2 separate regions of the Homo sapiens genome follow, and region 2 is linked to region 1. The links come from fine-mapping of genetic effects on gene expression. Tissue or cell type: whole blood. Region 1 holds a variant in brackets; the other region holds the start of a gene. All regions are shown on one strand. Distances are between the middles of the regions.

Region 1 (8,102 bases):
CCCAGCTAATTTTTGTAGTTTTAGTAGAGATGGGGTTTCACCTTGTTGGTCAGGCTGGGCTTGAACTCCTGACCTCAGGTGATCCACCTGCCTTGGCCTCCCAAAGTGCTGTCATTACAGGCCTGACCCACCATGCCCAGCCTTAAATATTATTTTTTAAAAAGTATGGCTTCCCTAGGCACACTGCTTTTAGAGTACCCCTGCTCCACAAGGAGCAGTTAAAAAATGTGTGTATACATTAACATATGTATGTGTATGTGTATACATGTGATATATATTCCAAACCATACATGCACCCTTAACATTTTTACATAAATAGTATTGTGTCTATTTGCTTGTGTTCCTGTACAAGAATGTAAGATATGTGAAGCAGAGACTTTATCTTGCTTTGTCTGTTTTCTGCTGTACTGCTAGCTCCTAGAACAGCTCCTGACACATGGTAAGCACCCAAGTATTTGTTGAATAAGTAAATATCAATCCGTAACTTGCTTTTTAAATTTGATATTGTGTCTCTAAGATCTATCTGCGTGTGTGTGTGTGTGTATATATATATATGTTCATTCTCATCAAGTTCATTACTTTATGCTGCTTTATATTATAAATAAACTATGTTCTATTTGTTCATTCACCTATTAGAGGATATTTACATTATTTTCACTCCTTTGCTATCATAAACCCTTACATGCAAATTTGCAAATTTTTTCAGGCCCATGCAGAATCATTTCTCTAGAGTATATATGCCCCAGAAGGTGAATGTTGAGCAATGAAGGGTGATATTTTAAATTTCACTGGTTGCTTGTCATATTACTCTCAAAAGTGGCCATAGCTAATTATACTCTCAGTAGCAGTGGATGAAGGCTTCATGTTTCTTACACCCTTGCCAGAACTTTATACTGTGAGATTTTAAAATTTGTTTGCCAATCTCATGGGTGAAACATGGTGTCTCTTTTTATTTAAATTTTTATTCAGGCTGGGCGCAGTGGCTCATGCCTGTAATCCCACCACTTTGGGAGGCCAAAGCGAGTGGATCACGAAGTCAGGAGATTGAGACCATCCTGGCCAACGTGGCGAAACCCCATCTCTACTAAAAATACAAAAAATTAGCTGGGCATGGTGGGGAGCACCTGTAGTCCCAGCTACTCAGGAGGCTGAGGCAGGAGAATCGCTTGAACCTGGGAGCGGAGGTTGCAGTGAGCCAAGATTGTGCCACTGCACTCCACCCTGAGCGAGACTCTGTCTCAAAAAAAAAAAAAAAAAATTTTATTCAGATAACTGTAGATTTCATATGTAGTCGAAAGAAATAATACGGAGAACTTGCATACCGTTAACCCAGATCCTACTGATGATAATACTTTGCAAAAGTATAGTCACAACCAGAATATCAAAATTGGCACAGTCCACCAATTTTGTACAAGTTTCCCTAGTTTTACTCAGACTCATTTTATGTGTGTGTGAATGCATTTAATTATATATAATTTTATGTCATATGTAGGTCCATGTATCCACCTCCACACTCAAGATACAGAACAGTTAAAACACAAGGATCTTCCTGTCGTGCAAAATCTCAGCTCACTGCAACCTCCACCTGCTGGGTTCAAGCAATTCTTGTGCCTCAGCCTCCCAAGTAGCTGGGACTACAGGGATGCATCACCACACCTGGCTAATTTTTGTATTTTTAGTAAAGACGGGGTTTTACCATGTTGGCCAGGCTGGTCTGGAACTCCTGGCCTCAAGTGATCAGCCTGCCTCGACCTCCCAAAGTACTGGGATTACTGGTGTGAGCCACTGCACCTGGCCTCCCCCTTCTTTTTAACCTCTGTTCTTCATTTGCAAGATTTTATCCTTTCAGGCTGGGCAAGGTGGCTCATGCCTGTAATCCTAGCACTTTGGGAGGCTAAGGCAGGCAGATCACTTGAGGTCAGGAGTTCGAAACCAGCCTGGCCAACATGGTGAAACCGCGTCTCTACTAAAAAAAAAAAAAAAAAGAAATACAAAAAATTAGACCAGGCGCGGTGGCTCACGCCTATAATCCCAGCACTTTGGGAGGCCAAGGCAGGCAGATCACGAGGTCAGGAGTTCGAGACCAGCCTGGCCAATGTGGTGAAACCCCGTCTCAACTAAAAATACAAAAATTAGCCAGGTGCAGTGGCGCGTGCCTGTAGTCCCAGATACTAGGGAGGCTGAGGCAGGAGAATTGCTTGAACCCAGGAGGTAGAGGTTACAGTGAGCCGAGATTGCACCACTGCACTCCAGCCTGGATGACAGGGAGAGACTCCATCTAAAAAAAATTAGCCAGGCGTGGTGGTGGGCACCTGTAATCCCAGCTACTTGGGATGCTGAGGCAGGAGAATCGCTTGAACCCAGGAGGCAGAGGTTTCAGTGAGCTGATATCGCACCACTGCACCCCTGCCTGGGTGATAGAGCAAGACTTCATCTCAAAAAAAAAAAAAAAAAGATTTTATCCTTTCAAAAATGTTGTATTCAATATTGTGTGTGGAAACTTAAAAAGAAAAAAAATAAAAATTAAACAAAATGTTGTATAAAAGGAACCATGTAGTATGTAACCGTTAGAGATTGGCTTTTTTCACTCAGCATATTCAGCACCAAGTTGTTGCATGTATCAGTAATCCAAGGCCGGGCACAGTGGCTCACACCTTTAATCCTAGCACTTTGGGAGGCCGAGGCAGGCGGATCACTGAGGCCAGGAGTTTGAGACTAGCCTGGACAACATGGTGAAACCCTGTCTCTACTAAAAATACAAGAAGTAGGCCGGGCGCGGTGGCTCACGCCTATAATCCCAGCACTTTGGGAGGCAGAGGCAGGTGGATTACAGGGTCAGGAGTTCAAGACCAGGCTGGCCAAGATGGTGAAACCCCCGTCTCTACTAAAAATATAAAAATTAGCCGGGCGTGGTGGCACACTCCTATAATCCCAGCTACTTGGGAAGCTAAGGCAAAGAACTGCTTAAACCTGGGAGGCGGAGGTTTCAGTGAGCTGAGATTGCACTACTGCACTCCAGCCTGGGTGACAGAGCGAGACTCCATCTCAAAAAATATATATATACAAAAATTAGCTGGACGTGATGGTGCATGCCTATAGTCACAGCTACTTGGAAGGCTGAGGCAGGCACATTGCTTGAACCTAGGAGGCAGAGGTTGCAGTGAGCCAAGACTGCACCAGTGCACTCTAGCCTGGGTGATAGAACGAGACTCCATCTCAAAAAAAAAACCAAGAAAAACAAAAAAAAATCCCTTTTATTGTTGGTATTCTATGGTATGGATGGACCACAGTCTGTTCAACCATCACTCATTGAAGGACCTATGTTTATTTCCAAGTTTAGGCTATTACAAATAAAGCTGCTGTTAACATTTATGTATAGGTTTTTTGTGCGAACATTAATTTCCATTTGGTGTCTCATTTTTTTCAATTAGCGTTTCCCAGATTACCAGTGGGGTTGAATATCTCTTCATATATTTGTAGACTATTCAGGTTTCCTCTTTGCTATTTTGCTTATTTCTTCTGTTGGGTTGTCTTTTTCTTACTACTTTGTAAGGGTTCTTTTTTTTTTAAGACGGAGTTTTGTGCAATCTCGGCTCACTGCAACCTCCGCCTCCC[G/A]GGTTCAAGCGATTCTCCTGCCTCAGCCTCCTGAGTATCTGGGATTACAGGCATGCACTACCATGCCCGGCTAATTTTGTATTTTTAGTGGAGACGGGGTTTCTCTATGTTGGTCAGGCTGGTCTTGAACTCCTGACCTGAGGTGATCCACCTGCCTCAGCCTCCCAAAGTGTTGGGATTACAGGCATGAGCCACCGCGCCCAGCCTAAAAGTTCTTTATATGTTCTGCATAGCAATCTTTTGTCAGTTATGTGAAACTTTGTGTTGACATTTTGGTGGTCATTGTTTCTCAACGTGCTGTAAAGTTTAGGAATAGATGAATGATTTCTGAAACTTGAATTTGGATCACTGATGAAGTGACCAAGGGGTTTCATTTGGGGCTGCCCACCTTGTGGAGCTTTGGGCCTGCTGCACCTTACATGTAGCAGTGTTTTCTTTGCATCCTTGCATGCCAGCGATACACTTTAATTGGTGGCACGTTAGGTTCTAGGCACACCATATCAAAACATCTACCTGCTTGAGGGCAGATGTCATGAGCACAGATCCTTTGCCTCGTTTTTTTGGAACATTCAGATACATTTATTGCATTGTAAAACCAGCCGTGTTTTCTGGCATTTTGACCAGCCCTCGGAAACTGCTGACATCATGATGTACTCCTTGCCTGGTGTTTCCATTTTCCCCAGCACTGCAGCTAGAATTTAGAATCCTGACTCACCCTTCAGCCAGCCACAGAGCATGCTGATTATTCTGGTACAGTCAGTGCTCACGAAGTGACTTTGCAAGGGGAAATAGCTTTTGGACAAGTCAAAGCCAGTGCAATTTCAGATAATAGCCCAGCTTTTCTTTTCTAACGTTCTCATCTGCTCAGATGCTGCTGCTTTCTCCCCTGATGGGAAGTGGAAGCCATGATTCTGCAGTCCTGGCCATAAAGCTGTGAATTGTACTAGCTGGCACAGCCAGTACTGCCCTACTGAGTTCAGTGAACTGTCCTTCTGATCTACACTGAGAGAGCCTGGCTGTGGTGCAATGCTCACAGTGAAGCCGTCTGCATAGCTGAGCTAACAATTCAAACTTCAGCTCTCATTTCAATAAATTACCTTATAAAACACTCACTGACCAAGATTACCTTGAGTAGCTTATTTATATGAATTTTGCAGTTACCCCAAATTAGCCATGGAGAAACTGATATACAATGTTTCTTATAATTTCCCCTCAAACCATAGCAAAAACATGAAGGGAAGTACTAGGATTTCTGGGAATATGGAATTTATATCTATGCCCCACAAACAATGTTAAAGAAAACGGGCTTTGGATATTTTCAAAGGCCTGTGGTGAGGATTAAATAAGGCATAATATATGAAAATGTTTTGTGAATTCCAAAATGTTTTACCAAGATAAAAGATTTTTAAAATCAGTTTCTGTCAGTTTCATACATCCAATCCTGAAATCAAGTCTACACTGATTTATTACATATAAGGAAATATTTTTGACGTGAATAGGCAATCATAGAATTTCTATTGTATTCGAATAATGATTGAAAGTAATTTTCTTTTTGAGATTTTGACTTCCCCATTTGAGGTAATATTCTCAAGGGACTAAATGTTACTGATGTTGAAGATTTATCCCAAATGAGGTTTGCTTTGGGTGACAGAATTCAAAGCTAGCTCTGAACAAAACTGAAATGGTGGCTAATACGATCCTTTCTGTGCCTCCCTTTTCTTTCCTTTTGGATACTTCAAATACACAGCTAGTTTCCTTGGGACATCCTAGGGCAGTCAGGGTCATTTCCTTCTCTCTCCAAGACTGACCTGCCACAATCCATCAGGGACTATGATTTTGTTGTAAATATTTAGAAAGATGGTGCACAACAATAGATTTGGCAAAAACTGAGCTGATGGCATGCAAGTGTAGCCAAGTGTGGGAATCCATACTTGGAATAATCTAAAGGAATGTTTAACGGTGGTAAAAGAGAAGTGCAGGAGATGGGGCAGCATTTTCAGGGCCTCTCACCTAATGAAATATTGGCATCTTACAGGCTTGAGGGTCACTTGTCTGATGATTTGTGTGCTAATTCTGTTGGAAGAGAAGATTCTCAAGAAATACACTATTGCCATTAAAAGTAAAACACAAGATTGTTTCCTCCCTTGAATATAGCAAGAACTCTGTAGAGTAATCAATGCTTTGGCCAGATATCCTTGAGAATTAATGTTTTTTAGATTGCAGGGAGAAGAAAAGAGGACAGAAACAAGTTTCTGTTTCATATTCCTTCTGTGTGGTGTTAGAGCAGAAGAACCCTAGGGAGTGCAGGGCTGGGGCCTGGGACATGTGAATGTCTGCACATTGGCAGTTCAGCAAGCTTTTCCTGTTGGCCTGCTATTCCCAGGAGACTGTCTATAGGGCTGCTTGGCAGCAGGTGAGGAAGGTGTGTATGTCTGAAAAATTCAGGATAGACAGACAACATCCCAAGTTTTGAACAACAATCCAACTGTGTGTGTGTGTGTGTGTATGCACCCGCATGTTCACAGCTGCACACAGCACCTTGCACTTCCTTTATTAATAGAAAACTGGAAGAATGATGCAGCAGGATTAAGCCCCAGGGTATTGACTGGGACTCGGGGAGACCTAAGGCACAACTAAAGGGTGGAATTTTTCTTTAATTTCTGTCTCTTTTTTCACATCTCCCTTTCCCCTTCCTTCCTGTTATCTTTCCAGTACTCATAGGTTGTGGTCTCAGCTGAATAAGAACCAGTAAATAACTTCCCATTGAGAAGTTAGGGGACATTGGCCAAGGTCTTAGCATTTCCAGGGTTTCTTCCAAGGGTCTTTCTTGAAGGCCACATTAAATCTCTTGTGGTAGATTTTCTAGAGAAGCCAAGGAGCAGTCTCCTTGAGTTTCCTCACATCAGACCTATAGACCCTTACTCACTTTCTCCTAATACCTACTTTGATATATTTCTTTTTTTCTTTTTTCTTTTTGAGAAGGGTCTCACTTTATCACCCAGGCTGGAGTGGTGCAGTGGCACGATCTTGACTCACTGCAACCTCTACCTCCTGGGTTTAAGTAATTCTCCTGCCTCAGCCTCCCAAGTAGCTGGAATTACAGGCACCCACAACCATGCCCAGCTAATTTTGTTGTTGTTGTTGTTTTGAGACAGAGTTTCGCTCTGTCTCCCAGGCTGGAATGCAGTGGCGTGATCACAGCTCACTGCAACCTCTGCCTCCCAGGTTCAAGTGATTCTCCTGCCTCAGCCTCCTGAGTAGCTGGGACTACAGGTGCCCGCCACCATGCCTGGCTAATTTTTGTACTTTTAGTAGAGGCAGGGTTTCACCATGTTGGCCAGGCTGGTCTCGAACTCCTGACCTCAAGTGATCCGCCCGCCTCGGCCTCCCAAAGTGCTGGGATTACAGGAGTGAGCCCCTGTGCCAAGCAATCTATTTCTATGTGAAGGAGAATACACTGGGTTGTTACACAGGGGCATAAAAGGTGAAATTATATCTTAGGATTCACAGTAGAGAGGAAAAAAAGCTAACTCTGCCAACTAAAATTATAGAAGGTCTTGAAAACAAATCTCATCATTTCATGAAAACAAATCTCATCATTTCATTATATGTTTCTAAATTGCAGGCTGGGTGCAGTGGCTCACGCCTGTAATCCCAGCACTTTGGGAGGCTGAGGTAAGATCACTTGAGGCCAGGAGTTTTGAGACTAGACTGGGCAACAAAGTGAGACCCCTGTCTCTACAAAAAAATTAAAAAATAAAAATTAGCCGAGTGTGGTGGCACATACCTAGAGTACTCTAGCCTGGGTGACAGAGCAAGACTGTCCCTAAAATAAAATAAATTAAGAGCAGACTCTACAGGCTCAGAGTAGACAAGGTCCTGGTATCTAATAGCGTACTTGGCACATGGGCCTTCAATGAACTATTTTTTTTTTTTTTTAGATGGAGTCTCGCTCTGTTGCCCAGGCTGGAGCACAGTAGTGCAATCTCGGCTCACTAAAAGCTCCGCCTCCCGGGTTCATGCCATTCTCCTGCCTCAGCCTCCCGAGTAGCTGGGACTACAGGCACCCGCCACCACGCCTGGCTAATTTTTTTTTTCAGTGGAGACGGCATTTCACCGTGTTAGCCAGGATTGTTTCGATCTCCTGACCTCGTGATCCGCCCACCTTGGCCTCCCAAAGTGCTGGGATTACAGACGTGAGCCACCGCGCCCAGCCAATGAACTATTATTGAATGAATACCTCATTTTCCCTCTTGGCATCACACCTGAGATTGCCTGATTTGTACGTTGTCCTCAGAGCCAGCATTTATTACATTGCATTTGAGAGTCGCTAAGACAAGGCATTTTCCACACGCTTTTCCTGTTTTTTAAGTACCTTCCAACCTTGATTTGCTGATAACAGCAGTTGGCTTGTATTTTATGCTGGCCTTTGCAATGATACAGCAAATGGAATCTGGAATCTCCGGAATCGATGTCAATATGAATAG
Region 2 (8,087 bases), 74 kb before region 1:
GCATTTGCGTTGGGACCTGAATGATGAAGTAGCAGTTACGTGGGGATCTAGAGGCAGAGTATGATGGGCACGGGAAGAGATGCAAAGGTCCTGAGGCAGGGGTAAGCCCACCATGTTGAAGGGCTAGTGAAGCTGGAGAGCAGGCAGTGAAGGGTAGAGATGGGCCTCTGTCTGCCTCTCCAACTTTGTCTCCTTCCAGAGGTCCATCTCTTTGGGGAAGGTGTTTGGAGGTTATTCTGGTTGTAATGGGAAGTGGCTACAGAAATAAAGTAATTTGATTAAATCTGTGATTCTCAAATGTTTCGGTTTTTTTAGCAGGAGAATTCTTTAGTCAAATAACAAGAATTTCAACCTACAACTAGATAAAGGTATTGCTCTGACTGGTTGGGAAGCTAGTTAAAGCCCTTCTGACCCTCTCTCTGACCTCTTGGCTTTTCTCCTTACCTTTCAGTACCTCCAAGCTCACAGGAGCTAGAAAACCACCAGGTGATCCATCTCTAAGCTTCCTGAAGCTCTAATAAAACCCAGCATCATTGTAAAGAATCACAGGGAAAGCTTTAGGATATAAGACTGGATGCTTGCTGGACAAGCATCTCGGGCTTCCCAAGACAGGCCCTGAGAAGGTTTATTTTATTTTATTCTAAATAGATACCACGTCTCACTATGCTGGCCAGGCTCATCTCGAACTCTTGACATCCAGCAATCTTCCTGCCTCGGCCTCCCAAAGTGCTGGGATTGCAGGCATGAGCCACTGCACCCGGCCCCTGGAAAGGTTTTACACTGAATCCCTGATGTGCACTTGCTTTCCACAGAAAAAACAACAATAAGCTCTGGTTCATCAAGGCTTTCAGTTAAAATCACACTGCTGAAACTACAGAGACAAAAAACAGATCGGGGGTTGCCACAGGATGAGGTGAAAGGAACTGACTACAGAAGAACAAAAGAACTTTCTGGGTTGGTGGAAAAATTCTCCATCTTGATAGTGATGTGGCTGCTTGTCTGTGTAAGTTTGAGAAGTTCATAGACCTGTAACACCTCAAGTGGTGAAGGTTTACCGTGTGTAAATTAGACCTCAAAAAACTTGACTTAAAATCACATTGCCAAAAGACTACTCAGAGGCACTTTACAGATGGAGGAGGGAAAATGGCTTGCTCCTGCTGCGGCAGCGGACCCCAGGAAGCCTGACTCGAAGGACAGTGTTCCCTCAAGTTCACGGCTGCCCAGCTTTAATTTGGAGCCTCTGCAGTGAGTTAGACTTCAGGTTTTCCTGCCGGCAAAATGAGGTGGTAAACAATTGCCAGAGGCTTCCCCACCACAGACAACGGGATTCTGAAAAGCTGTCCACTATGGGGGAGAAATCTGCTTTGGAGTCAGAAAAACTGGGAAAAATATTCCCACCTCTATCACTTCTTAGCTGTGTGCCCAGGCTCCATCCTGTGTGAGCGGGGGTAAGAATTCCCTCCAGTCAGCAGAGAATGCACCTGTAACCCAGCTGATTCCCAACAGCCTCTCAAGAAGGTCAGCGGCTATAACTTGGAGAGGTGTTTACCACAGCTACACAGCTCTTCTGCTCCCTGGGCCCCGGGCTGCTTCCTAGGAAGGACAATCTGGAGGCAACCATAAGGAAAGAAAATAACGAACTGCCTGGCCCTGCATTGCATAACCCGTGCGCAGTAAACCAGGAGCTCTGCTGGGACACAGTCTGTTATCTCAACAGGTAAACAGGAACCCTGCCCCCTCCCTGACCACCGTCAGCACTGGGCCACCACAGACACTCCAGACACAGACCGATAGCACATGAGGAGGACACCACTGCTCTTTAGCCTGTATTTTCACACTCCCATTTCCCTGCAGCTGCTGGCATCATCACTGGGCACACTCAATAACGGACACTCCACCCACTCCAGCCCTTCCCTGGCTACCTGCTCCAAAAGGGTGGTCCCGAGTGACTCAAAGCTGCCTTCTGCACCTTGCTCTTTTCCATCCACGGAGACCAAAACACAGACCCCAGAAGACGATTAAAATATAATAATAATAAAACCCCTCAGGCAGGAGTTTCTGCTTCCCCGTCACATCTACTGAGAGGCACTGTGGACACATAAAGACTGTTGACTTACTTTTTTCTCCACCTTGGGGCAGGAGGGAGGCAACACCCAGAAATTATCCCAATTTTATAGAAACAAAGACAAAGAGCTACATATCCTAGCCAAAGGCAACAAGGAGCAGGCCTAGAGCCACCCGGAGAGGCAGAGCCCAGCAGCAGCAAGGCTCCAGTGACTCCCATCTCCCTGGCAGAGATCGTCCCAGCCCTGTGCCCTGAGGGTGTCCTGAAGATCATGGGGGCTCGAAACCATGAAAGCAAGCAAAGATTTCTGTACAGTGCGGTTCAGAAAAGTTACTGAGTGCCTTCAGCCCAGGATCTCCTGGTTGATTAGGGAGTACTAACACCTAGGTTAAGAAACTCTGATTTCATTCATCACAAATATTTATCAAACCACTGCCAGGACATTGTGGCAACCACATCCTGCTGTTTTTATTCGGAGCCATTGCCAAAGCTTGGTTCTCTCCCCCACCTTCCGGTATCTGTGAAGTTTTCAGTTTCTATCAAACTCCAGCTGGGGGAGGGAACCGGGGCTGGCCCTAGTCGAGTAAAGTTCCACCACCAGGTCCACAAAGAGACTGCAGGGAGGCGTGGCCAGGCCGGAAATTCTGACAAAAAGTTTTGGCCCTCTGGTCCTAAAAGCAACTACTTCCTGATCGCTCCTAGTCCTGGGGTGGGGATGCAGTTCTCTGGCTGAGTGCCCCGCCGGTGGGCTGAGCTGGGGGCTGCCATCGCGGTGGATGGAGGTGGGGGGTCTGATCTCCGCACTCCAAGGCGCTCCGCTAGTACCTGGAACAGGGGAGTCTAACCCCCTGCCTTCCAATGGCTAAAGTTATTTTGGAGCACAGTCCCCTCCTAGGGTGTGAGCTCCGGAGGGCAGGGCCGCCTCCTCCACACTCCCTCGCCCCCCCCCCCCCCAGCAACCCACGGCCGGCGCTTTGAGGACTTGAACCCGGCCCAGACCCCGGGGCCCAGGCCTGCTCCGACCCGAGGAAGGAAAAAGGGGAAGCCAAAGGAAACTTCAGATGGACGCGGGGTGCGCTCGCCGCGGCCAGGGGCTCCGCTGCCCCCGCCCCACCCTCCGAGGGAGCGCCTTCCAGGGGCCCTGGCCGGCCTCCCACCTTGACCCGCTTGCCCTGGATCTCCAGCGTCTTCATGGTGAAGTCGACGCCGATGGTGCTTCCCTGGCGCTCCGAGAAGGCGCCGGTCTTGAAGCGCTGCACCACGCACGTCTTGCCCACGCTTGCGTCGCCCACCAGCACCAGCTTGAACAGGAAATCGTACTGCTCGTCCGGGTCCCCCGGGCCTGGGCCCGGCCCTGCCATGGCCTAGAAGAAGCCGAAGGGCCGGCGCTCTGGACGCTGGGACCGGCCTGAGCTCACGCAAGCCGCGGGCCGAGCTCCGCCCGCTCCAGCCCACGGGCCGCCTGGCTACGTGGAGCCGCCGCAACACCTGAACCCCCAGCACTGCCGACCGCCTGCCTCGGCCTCGGCCCCGCCCCACCCCGGCTGGCTCCCGCCCCGGCCCGGCTCGGCCCCGCCCGGACCCGGTGCCCCGCGGGTTCGGCTCCCCCCCGGACCCGCCAAGCCGGGCCCTCCGCAAAGCTCCGGCCGGTCCTCAGCTCCGTGCCACACCAGTCTGGCCTGTAGGCCCGCCCCAGCCCGCCCCCGCCCGCCCCCGGCTCCGCCCTCAGGCTGGCACCCACTCCGCCCCCAGCCCAACCCTCGGGCCCACCTCAGCCCGACCCGGGTTCCGCCTACGTCCCCGCCCCCGACTCCGCCCTCAGCTCCGACCTCGACTCCGCCCCCAGGCCCACCTCAGCGCGCCCCGACTCCGACCCGACTCTGCCCTCAGCCCGACCTCGACTCCGCCCACAGGACCACCTCAGCCCGCCCCGACTCCGCCCTCAGCCCGAACTCGACTCCGTCCCCAGCTCCGACCTCGACTCTGCCTTCAGGCCCACCTCAGCCCTCCCCGACTCCGCCTTCAGCCCGACCTCGACTCCGCCCTCAGGCCCACCTCAGCACACCGCCCCGACTCCGCCCACAGGCCCACCTCAGCCCGCCCCGACTCCGCCCTCAGGCTCACCTCAGCTCTGACTCCGCCCCACCCGACTCCGCCCTCAGCCCCGACCCCAGCCCGACCCCGCCCTCAGCACCTCGGCCCCTCCTCCATCAACACCCCGGCGCGCCCACACCGCGGATCCGTCTGGCCCCCAAACCGCTGCCCACCCCGACCCTTCATCAGCTGGGACCCCCAGGTGCTGTCCCGCGCCTCCTGCTCGCCCCCCACCCAGGCCTGGTCCGCCTGCCCGGGATCCCCTACCTGCTGCCTCCCAGACCGCCGGTCAGGGACAGGCGGAGACCATGGCTGGAGCTCCGGGCCTGCAGGCCTAGACTAAGAATGACCCCCTCCGGAATGGATCACGGAGGAAGGGGACGACCACAGCAGTGTCACCTGAGTGCCCACTCTGACAGGCGGGCAGTGCAGTCTCCGAGAGTGGTGGGGGTCGCTCTTCCCAGGGGCGGAAGGGAAGGGAGGGAGCAGGCTGCAGAAGGCCAGAATCCAGGCTGGCTACAAAACTGCGGAGGAGCCCAAAATCCTTGTGAGGAGAGGACCCAGGGCCCCATTTGATGGGAAGCTAGGCCAGAAGGAGGAGCTGGGAGCTCTTGTCTCCAAAAGGCAGCCTAGCAGTGGTTGAAGCAGCTGCTAAACGGCTGGATGACCCAGCTCAGAGCAGCTACAGGCCCATTTGGGAAACTGACCCAGCCAAAAAGCACCAGTCTAGGAAGAGGAACAGAAAAACTTGAAGGGATTTCTGAGGAAGGGCAGACCAACTCCTGAGTTGGCCCAGTGAACCAGGGCGCCTCAGAGAAAGGAGACCCAAACATCTGTAAGAAGCTTATACTAGATCCAACAGGACTGGGCTTCCCAGCTCCGAAGATGGGAAGGAATTGACAGCACCCCTTACCCCTCTAGACAGCTTCCTTGTGGCACTCCAATTCCAGGTATTCAACATATTTAATGAATGGCTACTACAGGCGGGCATTGTCCTGGGGCCTTGTAATGCACCTGTGGACAAAGCAGACAAAAATCCAGGAGAAAAGGGGAAAGTCTTCAAGCTGAAGGAGACTTCGCAGAGAGCAAGTCCCCCAGTGCCACTGTGAGGACCCCAGCCAACCTTTCAGGTCAAGATAGAAAGGGACTGAATGAGCAGTCTGCAAAGGCAGACCCCGTGGAGAAGGCAGAAGAGTTGTTTCTTCTGAAAGTTTGAACTCCACTCCCATGGGAAATACCCAACAGAATCAGACAGGAAACCCCAAAGTGCCACTGAAAAGCAATTGAGAGCCCCACTTTGGTACACCTGATGGGAGCGGAGAGTTAGAGAGGCAGGAAATAACCTCCACTCCAGGGTAGAAGTAGACAGGAGATGGGATGGAAGGTTTCTGCATGCTGGGACTAGCTCAGGTCAAAGTCCAGAACTCCAGAAAACAAGGCCTGCCCCCAGCTCAGAGCAGCTACCACAGCACAAAATGGTGTGGAATCCAGGAGCCAGGATGAAGCGTAGGGGTAGACGGTGGTTGGATAGCTAACTGGCCTTTCCACTGCTCTAGCCTGGAACTGGTTGGGCTGGGGCAGGGGACATGTTGGTCTGAGTATAGATTTTGTCAGAAAACCCAGGCACCACTCCCTTGCCTTTGCGGGGTGATTCTAAAATTGGACTGTGGTAAGGGTTGCACAACTCCTCAAGTTTATTAAAATCATTAAAATGTAAACTTACAACCTGTGGGTTTTATGGTATGTAAATTATACCTCAATAAAGCTGTCTAATATCTGCATTTCCTCTTTTGGTGGTAAATTCCTGAGTAGCACAGTGGCATTTTATTTGAAATGGAATCATGCTAATTTGAAATGCAGCAATTAAAAAATATTTATGTTTCATTTAATACACCAAATTTGAAAAAATGTATATTGCACTTTTTTTTTTTTTGAGACGGAGTCTCGCTCTGTCACCCAGGCTGGAGTACAGTGGCGCGATCTCGGCTCACTGCAAGCTCCGCCTCCCGGATTCACGCCATTCTCCCGCCTCAGCCTCCCGAGTAGCTGGGACTACAGGCGCCCGCCACCATGCCCAGCTAATTTTTTGTATTTTTAGTAGAGACGGGGTTTCACCGTGTTAGCCAGGATGGTCTCGATCTCCTGACCTCATGATCCACCCACCTCGGCCTCCCAAAGTGCTGAGATTACAGTCGTGAACCACCGCACCCGGCCTATATTGCAAAATTTTTAAAATAGGTCAAGAATTTAGTTGCCGGGCACGGTGGCTCACGCCTGTAATCCCAGCACTTTGGGAGGCTAAGATGGGCGGATCACGAGGTCAGGAGATCGTGACCACCCTGGCTAACATGGTGAAACTCCGTCTCTACTAAAAATACAAAAAATTAGCCGGGTGTGTTGGCCGGCGCCTGTAGTCCCAGCTACTCAGAGGCTGAGGCAGGAGAATGGCGTGAACCCAGGAGGTGGAGCTTGCAGTGAGCCAACATGATGCCACTGCACTCCAGCCTGGGCGACAGAGCGAGACTCTGTCTCAAAAAAAAAAAAAAAAAAGAAAGAAAGAAAAAAAAATTGGTCAAGAATTTAACTTTTTTTTTGAGACAGAGTTTCACTCTTGTTGCCCAGGATGGAGTGCAATGGCCTGATCTTGGCTCACTGCAACCTCAAGCAATTCTCCTGCCTCAGCCTCCCCAGTAACTGGGATTACAGGCGTGTGCCACCACACCCAACTAATTTTCGTATTTTTAGTAGAGACAGTGTTTTGCTGTGTTGGCCAGGCTGGTCTTGAACTCCTGACCTCAGGTGACCCGCCCACCTCGGCCTCCCAAAGTGCTGGGATTACAGGCATGAGCCACCATGCCCGGCCAAGAAACATATTTATTTTATTTTATTTTTGAGACACAGTCTCACTCTGTTGCCCAGGCTGGAGTGCAGTGGCGCGATCTCTGCACACTGCAACCTCCGCCTCCCGGGTTCACACCATTCTCCTGCCTCAGCCTCCTGAGTAGCTGGGACTACAGGCTCCAGCCACCATGCCTGGCTAATTTTTTATATTTTTAGTAGAGACGGGGTTTCACTGTGTTAGCCAGGATGGTCTCAATCTCCTGACTTTGTGATCCACCCACCTCAGCCTCCCAAACTGCTGGGATTACAGGCATGAGCCACCGCGCCCGGCCAAGAATTTAACATTCTTAAAGCTAGTGGTGGGTGAGCTGAATGCATTTTAACTGTTTGTGTCATTGCCATGCAGTGGCACCATCTCAGATGATAAAGAGGGTATCCCATACTGGCAATGTTCCCTGGATCAGACCTCCTCCAAGTGGCTAAAGGGACATTCGTACCTGGTTTTCTCCTTCCTTCTTTCTCCTTTCATCTTTTTCTTTCTACACTTGCCATTATTAAAATATAAACCTACAACACTATCAGACAAGTTTTCTTCTTTTTTTGGGGGGGTAGGGGTGTGGGGGAGACAGCGTCTTCCTCTGTTGCCCAGGCTGGAGTGCAGCGGTACAATCACGGCTCACTGCCACCTCAAATCTCCAGGGCTCAAGCCATACTCCCAACTCAGCCTCTTGTACTCGGCCACAGGCCTGGGACCACAGACGTGCGTTACTACATCCAGCTAATTTTTTTATTTTTTGTAGAGGTCTTATTATGTTGCCCAGGCTGGTCTTGAACTCCTGGGCTCAAGCAAATGATACTCCTGCCATGGCCTCCCAAAGTGCTGGGATTACAGGTGTGCGTCACCACGCTCGGCCCCAAATTTTCTTTATGTGGTGATGCCAAGGCTAGTGCTGAAAATGTGCCCCCAAGTGAAAAAACACCATGAAGGCCAGATGCCAACCACAATACCCTGTGTCTTTCATACAGAGGGGTGCTTGCTACAAAATATTACAAAATTAAAAGTAGGATTGTGAGATTCCGTGTTGTA

What was found. PIP is the estimated chance that this variant, and not a neighbour inherited with it, causes the effect.
Region 2: it holds the start of RAB43, and the variant in region 1 is fine-mapped to the expression of RAB43 in whole blood (TOPMed, PIP 0.92).

The regions. Positions count from the first base shown.
Region 1 is chr3:129,191,582-129,199,683 of GRCh38, forward strand. LOC105374101 (a long non-coding RNA gene) reads left to right here. Exons shown (of 2, transcript XR_924469.3): 2 at 4,484-4,723. Among named protein-coding and RNA genes, the nearest start is that of CNBP, 12 kb to the left of the region's middle. The variant G/A (reference allele first, on the strand shown) is at 3,616.
Region 2 is chr3:129,118,064-129,126,150 of GRCh38, forward strand. RAB43 (RAB43, member RAS oncogene family) reads right to left here and starts at 3,741. Exons shown (of 3, transcript NM_198490.3): 1 at 3,223-3,741. The coding sequence starts at 3,426. The region is part of intron 11 of ISY1-RAB43 (ISY1-RAB43 readthrough); the gene reads right to left. RefSeq lists an enhancer at 1,825-2,770 and silencers at 3,551-3,730, 3,751-3,970.